Linked DNA regions of Homo sapiens: all the other regions are reported to be linked to region 2. Evidence: microRNA targets listed by miRTarBase, many of them from high-throughput screens and not tested one by one. Region 2 holds a microRNA gene; each other region holds the end of a gene's coding sequence. Distances are from middle to middle.

Region 1 (3,000 bases), 52 Mb from region 2:
CTACTCTGTTGCCTCCAGAGGCATCTGAGGGAAGTAGTAGCTTTTTGGGAAAACTCATGGGCTTCATTGCTACCCCATTCATCAAGCTTTTTCAATTAATTTATTACCTTGTGGTAGCAATCCTGAAGAACATTGTCTATTTCCTGTGGTGTGTTACCAAGCAGGTGATTAATGGCATAGAAAGTTGCCTTTACCGCCTGGGCTCAGCCACCATCTCATACTTCATGGCCATTGGGGAAGAGTTGGTGAGCATTCCCTGGAAGGTGCTCAAGGTCGTGGCCAAAGTCATCAGGGCTCTCCTCCGGATCCTTTGTTGTCTGCTGAAGGCCATTTGCCGAGTTCTGAGCATCCCTGTCCGTGTCCTTGTGGATGTGGCCACTTTCCCTGTGTACACCATGGGCGCTATTCCAATTGTTTGCAAGGACATTGCACTGGGCCTTGGTGGCACTGTCTCACTGCTCTTTGACACTGCTTTTGGTACCCTGGGTGGCCTATTTCAGGTGGTTTTTAGTGTCTGCAAGCGGATTGGCTACAAGGTTACTTTTGACAATTCTGGGGAGTTATAAACTCAAAAAACTAATAGTATCCAGTCACAGTGAATTTGAAAGCTGGAATAGTTTGTCTTTACAATGGGTTTCTGTTCACTGTCAGTTATCATTATATTTTGGCCTTTGGTGGGGATGTCTGCTTGTTTTTGCAAAAGAAGATGGCAGAATTTAGACTTGACAGAGGAGAAATGCTCAGGGTGAGATTAGGTGTAGTAATCTGCTGTTTACCTCCAGTTATATGTGCAAACTCCCAAGCCACTAATAACTTCAGTTATGCACTCTAACACAGACGACCACCTGAAATGCACTGGTATTTATTTCTGATAATTAAAAATTACAGGGGAGGGAAGAACTAGAAAAAGAACAACTTTAGACCAAAGGTGTCTGAGAAAAGGAGAAAGGGAGCTTGTTCTTCCCATTGCTCTTTGTGATTTAAGGCAAAACAGATTAAAAAAAAAATCTGCAGCCAATTTCTTGGCATTTGCTTCTCTTTCTCCTCAACTCGACTGACCTTGGTGGAATGCAGATAATGCCTCTTTGTTGAAATAACTTTGTGGGAATGTACAATTTTCTATATCTCTTAGCTTTCCGTGGTTCTCAAGGATATGTACAGTTTTCATTTTCCTCCAAAGTTGAATTTTGCTACATTTTTCTTTTAGGTAATGATAAGCATTTTTTAAAAAATCATTTTTAGGTAATGGTAAGCATTTTATGCCAAATGTGGCATAACAGAGTTTGAATTGAAGGGCAAAGTTTTCTTTTCTTTTTTTTTTGGGCCCCTTGAATGGTATAATACAGTCCTCTCCGGTGGAAAGAAGAGAAGAGAAGGTGGACAGCCCTGCTCTTAGTAGGTGCTGCAGATCCAAGGACATCTTTTGTCCAGCTTGGATTAACTTGACGTGTATCCCTGCCTGACAAGGTTGAACTGAAAGATCTATATGTTAAGCTAACATGAAAATTCATATTCTGCAACATAGTAGATTTTTCTAATGCATGAAATAAGTACCCAGCACAGTAAAAATACTCTGACTTATGTCCCTAAATGGTTGTTTTGATACAACTATATAGAAAAGAGCCACAAAATAAAGATAAAAGTTATTGTGGCCATCTCTGAAAAAAATATATAAAATATTTAAGAATAATTATATCTTAGGAAATTATTTTTACAGTGTGTTTGAGGCTACAAACATAACTCCCCCATTAATACAAATTAAATGTGAGAGCTCATTCTCAAAATTTTTTTGATCAAGCACTTGTCATTTTAAATCTTGCACTAAAAAATGGTAACAAGAGGGACCAAACTTTGCTTCCCACAATTGGGATGGAATCACCTGGATTTTTCTGAATGTTTTAAAGAATTGCTGAGAGGTAGAAACAGCCAAGTATGAAATACTGATCTTGGGGCTACCGCCCAGGATCAATCAGAAAGTTATATGCAAAAATTCGGGGTCCCAACAAGGAGAGAACAATATGTCAACCATTTGCATGGGGTCGATGGATGAGAAACATGAGCGTAGCAAGAGTTACATTTTGCAGAAAAATAGCGGAGGCACACCCAGAGTAGAACAGCAGCCAGCAAGCTGCCATCCTGATCAATTTGTGATGCAAGGTTAGGGAGTATGAGCACCGCATGGGTCCATGCTAGGGAGATGTGCACCAGGCTTAGCTAAGAAACTTAAAGCAGTATTTTACCAACTCTTGTCTTAGGGAGCATAAAGTTTGGATGTCCCTTTATTTCAGCAGTGTGAAGGTAAATGGAAGGGTGAGGGTTTGACTTGGTACTGATTGGTCAAGAATCCTGCTGGATAAAGAAAAGGAATTTTAGAAGTGACCAGAGGGACAGTCCAGCCAAACTATTATTTGATAAGGAACCCAAGGCCCTGGGAGGCAACAGGCTAGCCCTTAGTTTCATGGCTAGCTGAGAGCAGATTAGGAGCCAACGTTGTTTGCACATGTCCCATCACACCTGAGATGTCAGACATGGGAAGTTCGTGCTATTATTCAGTTGCCTCTCTGGACCATGGCAAGATTTCCTCATTCATCAAACAGACTCCAGGCCCTGACAAAGCAGTTGGATTTGGCATGTGTGATGAAAACAATTAGCCATCCATGTACAACATTATGCTTACTGCATCCCATGGAAACTTAATTCCCTCCTAGCACATATTTGCATACTGAAAGGTCCGAAAAGGGCATCCACGGCAGCTTGAGCCCCTTAGCACCATGTAAGGAGCACAGCATCCAAACGGCTTCTTGAGAACCATTGGGGAATGTCTTTCTTTTTCACATCCAATTGTTTAGTGTCTATTTATTCTTGGGTGGCCAGTTTTGAAACCTAAAAAGGGACAATAAAGCAAAAAGTATCAGTAAGGATAGGTGGCTGAGACCCACTGCCCTGAGCTACTAGTGTGGCTGTGCCTGTGGGTCTCTAGAACCATCTGCATTGGACGTG
Region 2 (3,252 bases):
TGCTGCACAAAGCGAGGTGGTTATCAACAAGTGTTTCTCCTGAGAAGATTAGTTTTGACAGGGACTTCAAGGGGTTTTTTAATCTGGGTAAATCCACCAGGGCTTTATTGTGTGTAGCAAAGAGAGTCATTCTTTGTTAGGAAGGAGCTTGGGGAAGAGAGGTGGAGGGGTGGAGAGAGGGGGCTTTTGAACATCAGCCATTTGACCTTGGGGGCCAGAGTTCAAATCCCCCAGAGGTCTGAAAAGGTTGAAAAGATATCATTATCCCTTCTCCCTCCCCCGCGTCTTTCACCCAGAGCTTTATGTTTAACGGGGAAAATCCAGCGCCTGGTGTTGGCCAAACCTCATCAATGGGAATTCCATGTGTCTGAGAGCAGGATTTTTTTTTTCATCGAGGGAAGCAGGCAGCACTCTCAGCTGTAGTACTGTACATTTTTTTCCCCCTGCAAATCATCTTCTAGGAAAGCTGAATCACCTCCACTCTGAAGAGCAGCCACTTCTGGGAGGTGGAACACAGGGGGAGGAGGGAATACCCCCTCCTCCATGGTCCTTAAATATCCGTGTGGGGGCACTACTTGAATGTCTGGTTCAGATGAGCCTGGAAATATGACGAGGGTTCTTTGGACTGGGCTGGTAGTTGAGAAGACCATCTGAGCGGGGATGTAATTCTGAAGGAGTAAGGTAGTGGCTTTTTCTTTTGCGCTGGGGGTGCGGGGGCGGAGGGGTGCAGCTGGCTGGGTCATCAAATTAACATGAGAAGGGAATCGTTTTCAGCAGGGAAGTAGGAGATTTGGGGAGGGTGCTTGGAAGATAGAATCAGCATGCTATTGCCACCCCCCACCCCAAATAACCAAAAGGCAAGGAGTACAGACATAGAAATGGGAAGTGAAATGTTGGTATAGACTGTGATTAAGCCTGCTGTTGGTATGAAGTGCTGTCTCACTAAATAAAGCAGAGTGGATGGTGGCTGCATCCCTGGATCTGCCGGTGTGAAGTAAAACCAGGTCAGCTGGCCTGACACCCACTGTCCATATCACTGAAGGTCCTGCTCCAAGAAGGGGGATGGAGAGTCTTCCACAGCCCGGAAAGCATCAGGTTTCTTTGTGTTGCACTTCTCAGAAGGAAATTGTTTCTGTTTATTGCTTAAGTCAACAAGTATTTGTCTCCCTTTGATATAAATGCTGTGGGGGAAGTGGTTACAAGAAAAAAAAATCTGGTCCTGGAATTATAGCCATCTGCTCTCCACAGTCCTCCAAGACTGTCAGTATCTCTCTTTACTCTGAGCTGTGGTCTTCTAGGGACCAAGTTCCAGAAGAATAGCACCTAAAAAGTATTTCATGTCCATCAGCCTTCCCCGGAGATCCATGGAAAGACCACCTCTCTCAGGTTCTACCAGGTGCCCAAGCACTTGTCACATGCAGACATGTATGTGCAGTGTACATGCACATATATGTGCAAAAACCACAACAGTATGCATGTGGGTACCCAGGGTTCTCTCCACATGAGAACCCACGAGAGCCCACGTCAGCTCATGAGCCACATACACAAGGAAACAGACCTTCTTCCTCTCTGTCAAGTCCGAAGATGCCAGCTGAGACGTTCTTCATCCAGTTTAGGGGTGGACCTGATGTCCCTGAGTGTATGTGGTGAACCTGAATTTGCCTTGGGTTTCCTCATATTCATTCAGGAGTGTCAGTTGCCCCTTCACGCGACGTTGGAGAGCATTACAGCAAGCAGGTGTCTACTCATTTATGGCAAGAATGAAGTCCGACTTTTATCTTCATCACCTTGGATGAGCCCTGGTGCTTGCCCTGTTTCTCAAAAGAAACCTAAGGGCAGGGGCAGAACTGGTTATAGAATTCATGGAACCTGGCACAAAATGAACACGTAGGGCCCCTTGTTCAAAAAGCAGGAAGAAAGTGCCTAAATATAATGCCTTTGTCTTTCTTCCACAATCTCTCTCTAGAATCGTCATGGTGGTTTTTTATTTGCTGTTTTTCATGTGGTGCTAAATAAAAATAAAAATTTTAAATTTTTAGCATGAATTTTACCGTTCATCTTTATATTGTGTGATGCCAGTTGTAAATGTAAACACAAGAGCGTTTAACTCATTTGTAGAATCACTGAAATTACACAATTCACATTTCATATGTCGCATATGCATAGGTATTTCATTCTTACCAGAACAATGGAGATGCTGACAAAATGAACTCCAGTGTTTTTATTTCACTTCTTGATACAAGCGCTTTGTACCAGCACTCTCCACCTTCAGCTTGCTGTTGAGGAGAAATAGCTATGGATTGCTCTATCTTCACCTTTCCTTCTGTGTCAACATTTTCAGCATAGGTGTTTGGCAAATACAGGGAAGGAACATAAGTAAGAAATGCTACTTTAGGGTCCCTTAGGCATTAGTGTTTCTTAGAACTCTATTGCCTTCCTTCTGCATTTGAAGCATCTGGTTCAAACAGAAAGCATGACCTCTGGGCACTGTCTGTGTCCCCCGTCTGTGTAGTCATAGGCTTACTTTCCATTCTACTTGCCCCGAGTCTCACTGAGCTCCCACTGGAATTCTGTACGCATGGGCTACTGCCAACATTGTGGGACAGGAACGATGGATGGGCACACACATTCTCTATTATCCCATAGACTTCACTTACAAAACACGGGTTCAAAGACAAAATTTTTAAGAATTTCAAGACAATAACAGTAGAATCTTAAACCAACCATGGAGCTCTTCTGAGCCAAGGGCCCTGCAACTACACAAGTTGCACGCTCCTGAAGTCAATCCAGGTGGGAGGAAGTAAGAAGTAACCTAGACTTCAGGCTGAGAACCCTATTACTCATCTTCCTTCGTCAAGCGAATAATTGAATCCGCAGCAAAAAAAAACTTGAACGGCCTCCATTTTTGACCCATTGGGACTTTCTTCTCCTCTAAGCAAGTCCCACTCTGTGAAAATCCACCACTTCCTGGTGACGCTATCACAGCTTTGAGGGGAGAATTCATCTGCTGATCTCTTCACTGAAGCCGTGGCTTAGAGCCCAAGCCTTGCAGATGAAGCATGGGTTCCAATCCCCACCCACCACTTTCAAGCTTGGTCCCATCCAGGAGATACCCTGACTGATCTGTACTTAGGTTTCACCACCTGAAAGTAATAAAATATATTTGGTTTGATTCATGAATAATTGTGCTAATTATTTAGTGCTGCTTCTTGTTTGTCTCACAACTGCTCTGAGGTCTGCCCAGGGGTCTCC
Region 3 (3,000 bases), not on the chromosome of region 2:
TGTCCTTAGTAGCATTTGAGAGTGTTCTTAATATGTTTAGTCCAACCCATTAGAGCAAGATACAAAAATATATAAAAAGCTAATTTCAAATTATTTTATTACTATATTTAAAAATAAAAGCCATAAATACATGCAGGAAAAGACTGAAATAAACACTTTAAAATAGTAATATTATTTAATATTTGATGGGATGATTAATTTTATACTAAATATTTTGGGGAATTTTATAAATTTTCTATAGTGAGTTTTTTAAATAAAAATATATATATTTAAATATAACACTTCAAACATACCAAAGCAAGAAATTGTCTCTGGCCATCAGATATTATCTTTTCCACAAGCTTTTCTTATGCTCTCAGCTAGATACTGTTTCTCTCTCCTGTGAATTCCTAGCCCTTTGCCTTCTATGGCTGTAAAAACATTCTACTTTATGTTTTGTTATCCATGTACTTATTCCCTTTAGCCTATTGTCCTCTACTAGGTTGAAAAATTAGGGAAGGTAAGAATTGTACTTTAAATGCCATAGGAGTGCCTGGAATAGCACAGTATCTTGCATAAAGTAAATGTTTATGAATTCCAGCCACATCATTTGGAGTTTACATTTGCATATTCCATCCTCTGAATTATTTTTTTACATTTTAATTTTGACTTCAGCTTTTATTCATGATACAATCAATAAAATTCCTTCAATATAATCTCTTTGTTGTCCAAGGGTCAAATATAATGTTTTCTACACTGGAAAATTACCAAGGCTGATCATTATGTGAAACAGTTCTACACCATATTACATCCCTGAAGCAAGCAGAAACTCAAGTGCTTCGTTTGCAGAGTTGTTTTAAGATTTAGAATTTGCGGCTGGGTGCGGGGGCTCACGCCTGTAATCCCAGCACTTTGGAAGACCGAGGCAGGCAGATCACCTGAGGTCAGGAGTTCCAGACCGGCCTGGTCAACATGGTGAAACCCCATCTCTATTAGAAACATTAAAAATTAGCTGGTCCTGGTGGTGGGCGCCTGTAGTCCCAGCTACTCAGGAGGCTGAGGTAGGAGAGTCACTTGAACCCAGGAGGCGGAGGCTGCGGTGAGCTGAGATCATGCCACTGCACTCCAGCCTGGGCAGCAGCGTGAAACTGTCTCAAAAAAAAAAAAGATTTAGAATTTGCAAGTTTGTTTATTAGATGGTACATGTAAATTTCCTATGACACCTACCTACTGTTTCCTTTTTAGCATCTCAGTTTTGGGACACTTGTGAAATCAGTCTTCCAAGTATATTTCTGGTCATGGGTAAATTGTGAAGGCATTGGAAATTATCTGCACCTTTTCCCATCTCTGTTGTGAATCAATTTCCCACACACCTGGGACTTGTTGCCTACAACCAAACCTTGTGTGTCACTAAGGTGAAAACTTAGAATTTAAGCATGAACATTACAAAGACTTAAGGTATGTGATAAAAAACCTCTTTCCTTACAGGTATTCAGATTTTATTTGTGAGCCCTCTAAACATCAATGTCTTAAAGGGTTGACATTATAACAATGGAATAACTGAAAAGCGAAGTTTTCTGAAGTCATATGACCCTGCTGTGTGCCCAAGTCACCTATTCACATGGCTGTTCACATCATCTGCATGAAAATATTTTCACTTTCTGTTAACCATAGTGATTTACAATTCTATGACTATTAAAGTTTATTAAACACAAGTTTAGAAAGTATCTTTAACAAAGGTGTGTTTATTTCCATATATTGCTCATTACATTTTTCTTGCCACAGTTTTATCTAAAGCCAGGTCAAAATCTTTCTCTAAGGTATTTATTAATAGTGTATGTTCTTCAGATATAAAATCCCTCTGGTCAACATGCAACATTTGAATATCTATTGGCACTGTACCTCTATGAGATATTTATGACATTTGTTAATAGTGAACCTCAACCTCCTGACCCCACATCCGAAGTTGGGGGCGATGTGGGGGAACATACACAAAATTACAACCACATTACTGGTCAAGCACTTTATAGCTAAAATCTATTGACTTTAAAATAGCATTGTATGTGAATTCAGAGTTTTAATGTATTTTGTGGATCAAAAGGAAAGGGTCAAAGGCTAAGCTGAACACGGAGGGCACTAAATTAGCTAATAAGGCAGCTAGTGCCCCTGTTCTTGCCCCAGCCCTGTCATATCACTACATCCGATTCTCTCAAATGTTATAAAGAATAATGAACTTAAAACTTCAGGGGTTCCTGAAAACTGGTATTAAATTAAAAGCAGAGTAGTCAAAATTCTTTGCAAATGACTTCTGTGATAGAAAAAAATATTTCCAACCTGCGTCAGAGGAGAATTATCTTTTAGGTGCCAAGGAAAGAGTGATAAAGATGCTGAGTATATTAGTCAAGGTCATCTGAGAAGACTATTTTGTGGTTGATTCTTCTGAGCCCCTGAATTGTCCAACATTATTGGTGTACCTGTAGCGTGAACAACATTGCAACCAATAATTTTTTGAATACAGCAATGTAAAACCCTCAACTTTAATGTTCCTCAGATCGTAACAAATCAGCTCAGCTACAAGTCTTCCCCAAAGTGGAGCTATTCTAGTCATATATTTACTTAGTTTCAAAGAGCAGGAATCCTGCAAAGGTGGAGAAGCGTTGGTGGTCCCCATGGAGAGCGCCATTGCCCATTCGCAGCCAAACCTCATCCCCTTTGGCTAGCTTCAGCACAGCATGATTGCTGGATGTATCTGATTTGCCCTTCATTTCATAGCTGGAAAGAAAAAGAGGAACAAACTACTTAGTTTTTGCCATGAACAACCAGCTCTTCACCAAAGTCTGTGCTCCCCTTCTCTCCTTCCCACAGGTATAATCCTGCGGCTAAGTTCTCTAAACAGCCTGTGAGCAGAAATGACCTATGTACCACTTCTAAAGCTGGCTAGTAACACTCTCACAAAACCCCTCCCTGCTCCTTCTTATGACTGTCTGGAATGTTCATGACAATGACCAGAATGATCTTAGA
Region 4 (3,000 bases), not on the chromosome of region 2:
ACTGTCCAGTCCTCAGCCTTTGCCATAGTCCCACCCCACCTGCCGCCAACACTGTCTGAGGCCTCTCCTGCCCGCTTCCCATGCAGAAGAAAATCATGATCATCATCTGCTGTGTGATCCTGGGCATCGTCATCGCCTCCACTGTTGGGGGCATCTTCGCCTAGAAGCCACCCAAACTGCCACTCCACTCCAGGTGGGCCACTCCAAGGAGGCCCTGGCTGCTGCCACCTGGCTGGGCTGCCCTCCCAACCCCCGCCTCTGGCTCAGAGCACCCTCCCTCCCGGCCCCCATGCTCCCTTCTCTGCCATGGGCCCTCCGTCCCCGCCCCGTGTCGTGTGCATGATCTCTGTGAGTGTGCGTCTGTACGGGAAGAGGCAGAGGGAGGCAGCCAGCGGGGCGTGATGCAGTGTGCACAGCGAGGAGCAGACCCAGGCAGGGCCGCCAGGGTGACACAGGCCACCCTTCCTTGCCTTCAGTAACTCGGTGGGCCCAGGTTCTGCTCTTCCCTGGGGACCCTAACCTCGCCTCCAGCTGACCTGCCCTGTCCTCTCCAGCTGTCCCCACAAGCAGAGCCCTGAGGGGTGGGGACCAGCTGGCCACATGGTGCTGCTTTTCAGGTTAGGGGAGAGGTGGCCCTGAGGGACAGCCCAGCTCTGAGTCTCAGTCGCTGATCACTGCCAGGGAGGCTCAGGCTGCCATGGCTCCAGGCTCCCTCCCCTGCCTAGGGGCAAAGTCCATCGGGTCCTGGGCCTCAGCTTCCCTTCCCACATTCCTCCGGCCCCAGGAGCAACCCCTTGGGCTAGGTCTGACCCCAGGTGTCCCTCTGGAAGGGGCTGGCTGGTGCCCTATTTCCAGCCACCCCAGCAGCTAGGGAGGCAAAGCAGGCTGCAGTCAGTCCCTCAAGCCAGCGTTGCATGTTTGGGATGGTGGCTCCTGTTGTCTTGCGCTCTGGGAAGTCAGATGTCATTTCAGGCCTGCAGTCTCATCCTGCCCTTGCCATCCTCCCATCGATGTGCCACGTGGGTGTCACGTGTCCCAGATGCAGTATTCGGCAGCCAGCCGGGGAGGGCTACCTCCTCCTCCTCACCACCTTGGGGCTTCTCATGGGAAATGTGCCCCCGCCCCAGGACCCTCTCCCTTGTGGACAGGCAGGGAGATGCATGCGAGTGCATGCAGCAGGGGATGGGGCCGTGTCCGTGTGCCCCACCCTCCCTCGGCTTTACTCCTGCCCAGTGACTGTGACCACTGTCCGTGTTGCCTTCTTGAACAGCGATTCCCCCCAACCCCTTCACCAAAGGTCTTGGTACAACCAGCTGCCCATTTTGTGAAATTTTTATGTAGAATAAACATTTGTATCTGTACCAGGCCTCTGTTGTAGATTTCTTCCCCAGGTCTCCTGGGGGAAAACCTTAGGAGGGTTCTCACTATTGCCCAAGCTGGCCTCCCACCTCAGCCTCCCACAGAGCTGGGACCACAGGTTGTGCCTGGCCTGGCTGCTCTAGACTTCTTGCCATCTGCAGTGTCACAGTCTTAGAACCTGAGGATGAATGAATGTGGCACTAAGAGGAAGGGCTCAGAGGCGAGGATCCCAACTCAGCCTCAACCCCACCCTGGGCCTTCAACTTCCTCAGACCTGTCTCTGGCCGTGCAGTGGAAAACATCCAGGCCTTATTCCCTGAGAACAGGCCCAGAGGCCACTCTCAAGGCCTGGAATCTGACACCTGCAGGAAACCCCACTGCAGGGCTTAGATCCTCAGGCCCCAAGCCTCACCCCACTCCCAGACACCCAGCCCCTCGGGCCCCGGCACCCATTCCCTAATGTCTTAAGCTGCTGAACACCTAATCCAGCTCTGTACTGCAATGCCCAGGATCTTGCCCCTCTTCCCACATGGACCAAAAGGCTCAAGCAACCATTACACCTCCTCTCCTATCACAGCCAGCTGGACAGTCCCACACTACCCCAGAGCAGGACCTTCCCTTTCCAACCACTAGTGACGGGACAAGAGATCAGCCCAAGACATCCAAGCACTGGGCTGGTAGGCAGCTGACCGTGCAGCTCAGTGCCACAGTTCAAGCTGGGGCCGCTGGACTGGCAAGGCCTTCACAGGAAGGGAAAACGGACTGGCCAGCAGGCACCACGAACACATTTCATGTGGGCCCTCTTCCCAACTTTGCTTGGTGTGATTATGATACAGTTATATATAAGCCCTAAATTAAAGGACTCTGTGTTCCTTGCAAATGGAAAGAATGCTTTCATCTAAGTGTTTTAAATCTGATTCCTGCCTGGGGAGTCGAGCAGTAGCCCACCAGGAGGAACTGGAGTTTGGTGAGAATCACAGAGCTGGGAGATGCCAGAGCTCCACAAAAGGAAATTTTATTTCTTGCCTTTAAACAAAATAAGATGCTCTCAGAGCTTTTTTTTTTTTTTTTTTTCCTCCCTGGAAAGGAAGTTTCATTATGTTGCCCAGGCAGGTCTCAAACTCCTGGCCTCAAATGATCCTCCCACCTCAGCCTCCCAAGGTGCTGGGATTACAGGTGTGAGCCACCACGCCCGGCCCAGAGAACTTTTTTTTTACTGCAGAAAACATTTTTATAACTTTAGAACTTTTCTAAAATACTACTTTGTCAGCTGAACAATATAGAAAAGTGCAGAGGCAAGTGCCTTTCCAGAACCGCGTGGTGACTTAGAAGCGGGGCTTGCGCTTGCGGCCGGTGTACTGGGTGTCAGGTCTGACTTCCCTGTGCAGAAAAGGAATAGGACAGTCTCAGAAAAAAAAGATCAAAGCAGCCCTGGACCCTTCAAATAAAGGGAAGCTCTTCATGGCAATAGTCATCCACCCCCCACCCACCCTGCCAGCTCCCAGGCTGGCACTCACCTGCCCTGGCGCCTGTGCCGCTCCTTCTTCTCCAGCACCCATGCCCGACTCTTCCTCACCATTCCCCGCCTCGACATCCTTAATGGGAACCTGTGGCGGAGACACAGCTATGAGCTGATGGACA
Region 5 (3,000 bases), not on the chromosome of region 2:
GTAGCTTGATGGGAATAGCATTCAGTCTATAAATTACTTCAGGCGGTATGGCCATTTTCACAATATTGATTCTTCCTATCCATGAGCATGGCTTTATTTTGCATTTGTTTGTGTCCTCTCTTATTTCCTTGAGCAGTGGTTTGTAGTTCTCCTTAAAGAGGTCCTTCACGTCTCTTGTAAGTTATATTCCTGGGTATTTTATTCTCTTTGTAGCAATTGTGAATGGGAGTTCACTTATTATTTGGCTCTTTGCTTGTCTGTTATTGGTGTATAGGAGTGCTTTGTGATTTTTGCACACTGATTTTGTATCCTGAGACTTTGCTGAAGTTGCTTATCAGCTTAAGGAGATTTTAAGCTGAGACTATGGGGTTTTCTAAATATACAATCATGTCATCTGCAAACAGAGACAATTTGACATCCTCTCTTCCTGTTTGAATACCCTTTATTTCTTTCTCTTGCCTGATTGTCCCGGCCAGAACTTCCAATACTATGTTGAATATGAGTGGTGAAAGAGGGCATTCTACCCTTTTTTGTCTGGGGAAAAATTGTCATCCTTGGGGGGAAAAAAAAGCAGTAGCATCTTTGAGCTTAATTGTAATACCATAGTGCCATCTGGTGACCATATGGAATGACTGCATTATCCACATGGGATATTTCATGTCTAACAAAAATCTACAACATGTAAATCTCTAGTGTGTTCTGGGTTAGTGTTATAGGGACAGACAGTGAGGGCTGTACTTGAGAACTGTTCTCCTGAGCTACTCCTTTGGAGATCCCTCCCCTGGTTAGGCACTTTTTCATGTCAGAAAGAAAAATAAGAATTTTCCCCTTTGCCTACCCTAAGATGGTAGATGGCAGGTTGTATAAGCAAATGAGTGAAGTCTTCACACATCCCTTCGGCTCTAAGGAAGATGCTGGGAAAGGGGAGTTGGTATTTTGTCTTGTTGAGAGATCTTCCCTTGAAAGATTTGGCTACTGTACCTATGGCCTCGAGTCCAATCCCAAATAGGAGTTTCAAACTCAAGTAACCCCGAATAGCACCTAGCTGTCCCTAAATATGAAATAAAGGCCCCTCTTCATTCTTCCAACTACCCCAGAATGCAAAGAACTGTACCATCAGAGTGTAGCCAGGGCTTTTGAATCCATCACACTTTTACCTGAGCTCAGATTTCATGAAGTACCTCAACCCCCACCTCCAGTGGCTTTGAAACAAGTCTTAACAGATGGTCACTCTTGCCATCCATCCCATGCCATCAATTCAAGTCAAGACTGATCAATGTACTGAATATGAACTTTATTGTGATTTGGTTTATGTAAGGCAGTGTAGTGAAGGCACTGCAGAAGTTAAACAGACTGGAAAACATGGTAAAAAATGAGCGAGCTAAAAATGAATGCTTGCTGGTCTAGGTAGGCTAAGTACTACAACTATGTTTCTTTTTCATCATTGCAGAAGCGTTGAAATATTGTTGAAGGTGGGGGTTTGGGGTGGAATTAGGGAAGGCTTCATGGAGGAGGTGGCATTTATACTGGGCCTTGAAGGAGGGGCAGAAAGTTGATAGGTTAAGATGGAGGGAAGTACATTTCATAATGACTGACTCTAGAGAAAATTCTGTAGAAGTACTGAAAAATGAGAGGGCAAACAAACACCCCCAGCGAGTGAAGCATCCCAACTGAGAGAAAAGTCTGAGGAGTCTGGGCTGGGACCAAAGTCTCAAGTCCCCAGATGGGGTCTTCAGTACAAATGATATTAGGAGGCACAGGACAATGGGCTTGTTTGTAAACCTAGCAGCAGCGAGAGGTTTCACATTGCAGTCAGGGGCCCCAAACTGGCTGTAATATGTCTGGATGAATTCTCTCATCTTTTAGGTGTGTATGGTACTTACTTATCTTTCCTCTTGCCCACTGACTGCCTGAATGGTAGTTCGTGCGCGCCCATGTGCGCGTGTGTGAGTGTAGGTGTGTGTGGATGGGTGGGGGACCGAGGCTTTGTCTCCCACTGCAGCTTCTTCCACTTTTCCGTCTTGTGGCACACAGCAGGCTTCCATTGAGCTGAAGCTCAGGCCCCTCTCACTGTCTAGGACTCATTGAACTCCAGCTCTTGATTAAGCACCAGGAAGCTTTCTCAACATGAAGGTAAAATTTACTGTCGGGGGTGACTTGGGTTAGGGCAGGACTACACTTTCCGGAGGTGATGATGGTGGTGAGTGGTGGTGGTGGTGGTGGTCGTGGTTGGTGGTGGTGGCAGTGGTGTCTGTAAGGGTTGGGGACTTAAAGCCGGCTCTGGCTGCTGGGTGAAATGCTGCTGGGAAGTCTATAGTGTTCAGTCAGGAGCTAGGATGTCAGGCTAGACCAGCTTGGCCTTGATCAGCCCTCCTCCTTCCTCAACATGCCCTACAGGGGAGATATATCAAACAACTGAAAACATCAAAGACATCTGTAGGGTGTCCAGCCTCTTGTTATTGTCCTACTTGAATCTCACCCCCGGAAGCCCCAGAGATCCTTTCTTGGCAAATGTGTATGATGTCTAGATAGGACTGTCGCCTCCCCATGTCCAGCTGCTGGAGGTATATAGGTTATGTAGCTACAGATGCTACTTGGATTGGGAGGTATGGGGAATTTATCAGAAGAGAGGAAGAGTTAATTATTGTGAATCTCATTCTTTCTAAAGATTGTGAATCTTAACTAAGACCTGGCACCTGACGGAAAATAAAAGGGTGGCACGCTTTGTCAGGATTCTCTGGGATTGCAGATTTAGAGCTCAGTGAGATCATCGCTGGAAATAACCTTGAAGCTGATGTGGCCTTGCTTGACTTTGGCAGTTGGACCACCCTTCTTACGCAGGTACAGAGACTTCAGATCACGGCAGTCGCTGGGGTCAGCATCCAGAGTAACCTGCCCCAAGAACTGATCACAGAATTTTCGGCTGTTCCAGACCTGGAAAGACAAACGAAGGGAGTGAAGATGAGCAGCCCTCAGTGAGATTAGCCTTTGCCCAGTGAC

The links. Region 2 holds the annotated microRNA hsa-miR-670-3p (UUUCCUCAUAUUCAUUCAGGA, at 1,669-1,689, shown strand). A microRNA usually pairs through its seed, bases 2 to 8, with sites in the 3' UTR of a target mRNA and lowers its output. Matches are read on the target gene's strand: a 7mer-m8 pairs with bases 2 to 8, a 7mer-A1 pairs with bases 2 to 7 and ends in A, and an 8mer does both.
Region 1: the mRNA of ENDOD1 is a reported target of hsa-miR-670-3p. The part of its 3' UTR that is shown has no 7-base or 8-base seed match.
Region 3: the mRNA of C1QTNF3 is a reported target of hsa-miR-670-3p. Seed matches in the 3' UTR shown: 7mer-m8 at 2,523-2,529.
Region 4: miRTarBase lists BUD23 as a target of hsa-miR-670-3p. Seed matches in the 3' UTR shown: 7mer-A1 at 2,431-2,437.
Region 5: miRTarBase lists CAPN6 as a target of hsa-miR-670-3p. Seed matches in the 3' UTR shown: 7mer-m8 at 2,378-2,384 and 7mer-A1 at 1,889-1,895.

What each region holds. Positions count from the first base shown.
Region 1 is chr11:95,129,014-95,132,013 of GRCh38, forward strand. It overlaps ENDOD1 (endonuclease domain containing 1), which reads left to right. Exons shown (of 2, transcript NM_015036.3): 2 at 1-3,000. The coding sequence ends at 566. Among named protein-coding and RNA genes, the nearest start is that of LNCRNA-IUR, 20 kb to the right of the region's middle.
Region 2 is chr11:43,558,046-43,561,297 of GRCh38, forward strand. MIR670 (microRNA 670) reads left to right here and starts at 1,611; the gene lies at 1,611-1,708. It also overlaps a transcript of HSD17B12 not described here.
Region 3 is chr5:34,017,992-34,020,991 of GRCh38, forward strand. It overlaps C1QTNF3 (C1q and TNF related 3), which reads right to left. Exons shown (of 6, transcript NM_181435.6): 6 at 1-2,751. The coding sequence ends at 2,592. C1QTNF3-AMACR (C1QTNF3-AMACR readthrough (NMD candidate)) reads right to left here. Exons shown (of 9, transcript NR_037951.1): 6 at 2,596-2,751. Among named protein-coding and RNA genes, the nearest start is that of AMACR, 11 kb to the left of the region's middle.
Region 4 is chr7:73,697,571-73,700,570 of GRCh38, reverse strand. BUD23 (BUD23 rRNA methyltransferase and ribosome maturation factor) reads right to left here. Exons shown (of 12, transcript NM_017528.5): 11 at 2,877-2,966; 12 at 2,359-2,739. The coding sequence ends at 2,685. It overlaps STX1A (syntaxin 1A), which reads left to right. Exons shown (of 10, transcript NM_004603.4): 10 at 87-1,361. The coding sequence ends at 164. Among named protein-coding and RNA genes, the nearest start is that of MIR4284, 12 kb to the left of the region's middle. RefSeq lists an enhancer at 695-1,196.
Region 5 is chrX:111,243,826-111,246,825 of GRCh38, forward strand. It overlaps CAPN6 (calpain 6), which reads right to left. Exons shown (of 13, transcript NM_014289.4): 13 at 1,274-2,934. The coding sequence ends at 2,752. Among named protein-coding and RNA genes, the nearest start is that of CAPN6, 25 kb to the right of the region's middle. RefSeq lists an enhancer at 2,415-3,000.